Regions from separate parts of the Homo sapiens genome. Here region 1 is linked to region 2. Evidence: fine-mapped expression QTL. Tissue or cell type: lymphoblastoid cells. Region 2 holds a variant in brackets; the other region holds the start of a gene. All regions are shown on one strand. Distances are between the middles of the regions.

Region 1 (2,681 bases), 84 kb after region 2:
TCCCCAGGTGGGGCAAGATCATCTACCTTGGCAAGCACAGTGGAGCATCCAGACGGCCAGAGGTTCAGAAAGGGCTGCAGCAGACCGACTCGGTGACTGGCTCATGGGAGAGCAGCACAGCATCCCTGGTCCTGCAAATGCTTAAAACAGAGAGAATATGAGGGCAGGCAGATGCCCTGGTCTTGACTGCTGCCCGTTGAGAAAGGACAAGCTGGAGAAGGGCTGCGTGGTCCCTGGTCTCTCCAGGCCCTGAGGCAGTCTGCTAAGAACATATCTGGGATCCTGCCCCTCACCTCCCATAATGGAGAATAGGAACCCGGCCAGCACAGCCCTTTGCACAGAGCAGGTGCCCACTTTTGTTCCTTCCTCCTTTGTTCCCATGAAGTGCTCTCACTTCTGCGGGTCACTCAGAGCTCCCCAAGCAGCCCCAGGGAGCTTGCTAGGAGTGACTGACGGGAGACAGCATAGCACATCCCAGGTGGTGAGGATGCAGTCCCGGTGAAGGGAGTGGGGATCCTGGGATGATACGATGAATGGAAGGAAACTAACAGGAAAGGCATCTGGGACCAGGTTCTAGTTTTGGCTTTGCCAAGTCCCATAAACCTCTCTGAGCCTCAAACTCCTGCGGAGAAACAGAGCAACATCCCCTACTCTACCTCCCTACAGGGTTAGATCATGGGAGTGACCAGGCAAGCTGCAAAGTAACCTTAGCAAACTGCGTTCTTACATAGGTGTGGGGATCATTATTCCTATTTCCCAGCTTCCCTTCTTCAAATAACAGGATTAATCAATCTGGTTCCGGAATCATTCATATTTGAATAGAGGGCAGGAACAACAGAAAACTTAATTAGGAAGTCAAGCACTGTGAGCCAGTAAGAGGCAAGTGACTACCCGCCACAGAGACTGCTGTTACGAGTTCGGCCTTTAGCAGCCGAACCCTGAGACGGGCTCCATCACCCACATGATTGGCCCGAATGCCATATTCCCGAAACAGGGGGATGCTTCCCAAAGGCTGCTGGGAAGAGAACCTCGCCGGTGTCACACTGAGACTTCCGCTTCACCTCGCTATCTTGCCCTAGAAAGGGAACTCGGAGGGGACTCACTGACGAAAGGAGCTCCAGATGGCGGGGGGCCAACCTGGGGCGACCCCCAGCGCCCACTTTCACCATCTGGACCCCAGCAAACCTCCCTGTGGCCCTTGGTCCCGTCTTCAGCAGCTCCTTCTGGGGTCCCACACCTTCGGAGCCCGGCCCTGCCCCTGAGTCTCTGGAGAGAGCGAGTCAGCAGTTCGCCGCCGCGGGGCTCCCGTTTGCCTAGCACGCCAGTTTCTGTCCAGTTTCACCCCAAATCCCCACCTCCCCCCACCCCCGAACCTCACGGCCACCCTGGGAAGGAGGCTTGACTTGTGACATCCACCCCTCTTCACGGCTGAGGAACTTTGGCCCCGAGCGAGGAAGCGACCGGCCCACGGCCACACGCCCGGAGTGGGTGAGGCTAGGAGTGGGCCCGCTCCGGGACCCCTAGGGACCCTACCTCACTTCCGGGAGGGTTGAAGGGGGGCTCCGGAGGGAGGATCGCCGCCCCCAGAGGGGACAGCCCGGAGGCCCACGTACCGGATCGCGGCGCGCACAGCGCCCCGCCTGCAGGAGCCCGGGCGCGCTTCCGGGTAGGACCGCGTGATCGCGCACGTGACCGCCCGCCCCGGGAGGGGCCGGAGCCGCCGTCGCCTTCCGCGGGTTCGAGCCCCGCCCCTGCCAGGCCTTGCCCATGCCCCATTTTACAGAAGAGGAAACGGAGGCGCAGAGAGAAGAAATAACTTGCTGAGGGTCCGAACCAGGCTCAGAACCCAGGTTTCCTGGCTCCTCAGCTGATCCCTTCTCTCCTCCCCATGCCCCGGAACCTCAGGCTTTGCCTAATGAACTGAAGTTCTGGGGCTAGAGCTGTCCTTTTGTGACTGCTCTCCCTGACCTTTGGGGAGGTGACATAGCGCACAGAAGGGCTCAGTTGCCCCCAGAGTGCCAACGCTGGAATTTATAGGAGTTCTCAATCTATTTTGGGAGTGGAGTGCACATTAGGAGTTTTGTGTTGAACCTATGTTTGCAATATTTATTTTAAAAAATCGTATGTGTATTGGGGGTGCCTGGAAGTGGAGGGGGCGCTCTGGAAGGGCCTAAATCCCCGAACAGTCCACCCCTCAGTGCCTGGGTGCCACCTGGGAGCTTTGAGCCCAGCCCAGCAAGGTATGGGTTGCAAGAACTGGCTGGGGATATAGTAGATTGAGCATCTCTTGGGGGAAAGGCAGAGGCTAAGAATCAATACTTCCACCACCTGCAGATCAAAGAGAGCATCACTCCCCCCAACCCACTACCCACCCCTTCCAGCCCACCTTAGGGCAAATTCTTCCAACTCCCCATCTACAGCACATAGCCCTGCCACACGCATCTCTTTGCTCAGCCCACCGTTGAGATCGTTCACTCACTATGCTTTCAGTGGTCGAATGAATTCCATCAAATGGATATGCTGTTATTTACTTATTCATTCCCCTACTGGTAATTTCCATTTCCCAACTGCAATGTATGAGGATTCTGATTTCTCCACATCCTCACCAATGCTTGTTATTGTTGATTTTTTTTTTTTTAAGTATAGTAACCCAGCGTGGAGTGGTGTCTTGTGATTTTATT
Region 2 (2,681 bases):
AATATTTTTTTAAATATTAAAAATTATAAATAAATAAATTAACAAAAATCACATTGCAAAGTATAGCAGATCTCTATGATCTGGTCTGAACTCTAATGTCAAACATTAAAATCGAGTTTGTCAGTATTACTATGTATGGTTTCTGAAAATACCAAATAAAAGATAATGAGGAATCTGAAAATATTTAAAAAGACACCATGGCTTTGGCGTTGCTTGCTCTCTCAGATCACTCCCTCTGGGAAGCAAGCTGCCATGTCATAGAGGGACGCCCACATGGTGAGGAGCTGAGGCCTCCAGCCAATAGCCGGCAAGGAACAAGAGCCTTCTGTTGCCAGCCCTGGGAGTGAGCTTGCAGACAGATCCTTCAGCCTCAGGAAAGCTTCTTGATGACGCGGTCCTGGCTGACAACCGGACTGCAACCTCATGAGATACCCTGAGCCAGAACCACCAGCTAAGCCACTTCTCAAGTCCTGACTCACAGTGCTGCAAGATAATAAACGTTTTGGAGTCATTCGTAACACAGCAAGTGATAATGAAGATACGTGGGTTGAGTGGGGCTTTGCCTAATATGCCCTAGTGCCTCCTGAAAGTGAATGAGGCCAGCTGGGATGACTAGGCACTGCTCAGAGAGCTGGGGTAAGGCCACCGTGTGGTTTCCTAAAAGGAGTGAAAGTAGAGAGAGCCTGAGATGAGCATCTTCCGGAGGGAGGGACTATGTCGCCTGGGAGAGAGTCACACACACCTGGTTTCTGGGGCTCTGGGCCCCAGAGGCAGGTGTCGTCTAGGGATAAAGAACGAGAGGTAATGTCCAGAGGAGGAGGTCCCTTCTCTGACAGCCTGGGGTCGGAGGAGGCAAAGCTTTTGTTAAGAGGCAGTTCCCTGGCTTGATCAGAAGAGGAATGTCAGCCAGCTTCTGAGGACTGCAATACCAGAGCTTCTGAGGCAAACTGGGACATAGAAGATTGAAGAAGGCGCCAGAGGCACAGAGACACATTACTGGAGCCTTGGAGATGGTGGTCATGGAAGCCATTAATAAAACATGGAACTTTCTGGAACATTGGTATTCATCATCATCATCTCTCACCCTCATGTCAACACTATTTATTTATATATTTATTTATTTATTTATGACAGGGTCTCACTCAATTGCTAAGGCTGGACTGCAGTGGCACAATCACAGCTCACTGCAGCCTTGACCTCCCGGGCTCAGGTGATTCTGCCACCTCAGCCTCCACAGTAGCTGGGGCCACAGGCATGCGCCACCGTGCCCAGCTAATTGTTGTATTTTCTATAGAGATGGGGTTTCACCATGTTTCCCAGGCTGGTCCCAAACTCCTAGGCTCAAGTGTTCTGTCTGCCTCGGCCCCCCAAAGTGCTGAGATTACAATCGTGAGCCA[C/T]GGCACCCAGCCATGTCAACACTTTAATGCAGGCAGTTGCTATCCCCATTTTACTGAGGAGAATCTAATATTGTAGCAGGCCAAGTTTCACACAGGCCTCCATAACAACCGCTTCAGTACTGACTGAGTGGTTAAGTTAAATATTAAAAGCCAGTGCCTTTATACAAAGGCTAGGATGTAACAAAAGCCCACCAAGAGTTTTGTCTAGGCCTTTCCTGGGCCTTAAAGCATGACAGAATAATGAAGGAATTCTTAACAGGACCCATTTAGGATTAAACAAGTTTATTGGGGGTCTGGAGGAACTCCTAAAACCTGTGATTCAGCAGGAGAGAAGATAAGGGTAATCACTCCAGCAACTGGACCCATTAAGAGTAAGTAAGCTGGCCGGGCGTGGTGGCTCATGCCTGTAATCCCAGCACTTTGGGAGGTGGAGACGGGAGGATCACGAGGTCAGGAGATCGAGACCATCCTGGCTAACACGGCAAAAGCCCATCTCTACTAAAAAAAAAAAAAAAAAAAAAAAAAATTAGCCAGCTGTGGTGGCGGGCGCCTGTAGTCCCAGCTACTTGGGAGGCTGAGGCAGGACAATGGCGTGAACCTGGGAGGCAGAGCTTTCAGTGAGCCGAGATCGCACCACTGCACTCCAGCCTGGGCGACAGATCGAGACTGTGTCTCAAAAAAAAAAAAAGCAAGAGTAAGTAAGCTTACTGAGGCTCCAGAGGAAGGTCTTCAAGACTCAGACCTTAGTTATAGATGAAAAGAAGTTAATCACTTATGTCTTTAGATGAATGCACACCTCCATGTAGACATGTAGCTTAGAAGGTATAGAAGCTCTGGAAAACTTTGTAATTTTGAGTTGGTCTGGTGATAATTTCCAGGCCTTCTCCCTGGTTGCAGAAATAAAAATTTCTGTAACAGGTTGCAGAAATAAAAATTATCTTCCTCCCTAGTTCATCTGCATCTCGTTATTGGGCCATGAGAAATAGCAGCCTGACCCTCAGTTTGGTCCGGGAACAATAATGTCAACAATAGTAAAATGTGGATAGCTAATAAGTGGCAGAACAGGTCTTCCAACTCCAAGTCCTGGGTCGCTACTGCCACACAGCACTGGAAGTCATGAACGGGTCCTTCAACTAGGAACCAGACAGGAGGTGGCCCTGGAGGAAAACGCCCAGCTGAGACAAGGCTGATGTCAGACATTGTGCCCAGTCTGTTATTTCTCTTACTTGATCTAATCATGTGACTGTGCATTTATATGTATATGCAAAATATATTTTTAAAAGT

Evidence for each region. PIP is the estimated chance that this variant, and not a neighbour inherited with it, causes the effect.
Region 1: HPS1 starts here. The variant in region 2 is fine-mapped to the expression of HPS1 in lymphoblastoid cells (GTEx, PIP 0.95).

The regions. Positions count from the first base shown.
Region 1 is chr10:98,445,274-98,447,954 of GRCh38, forward strand. HPS1 (HPS1 biogenesis of lysosomal organelles complex 3 subunit 1) reads right to left here and starts at 1,662. Exons shown (of 20, transcript NM_000195.5): 1 at 1,534-1,662; 2 at 27-131. HPS1-AS1 (HPS1 antisense RNA 1) reads left to right here and starts at 1,048. Exons shown (of 3, transcript NR_134454.1): 1 at 1,048-1,484. RefSeq lists a silencer at 1,480-1,829.
Region 2 is chr10:98,360,901-98,363,581 of GRCh38, forward strand. LOC105378449 (a long non-coding RNA gene) reads left to right here and starts at 354. Exons shown (of 3, transcript XR_001747305.2): 1 at 354-636. RefSeq lists an enhancer at 152-446. The variant C/T (reference allele first, on the strand shown) is at 1,398.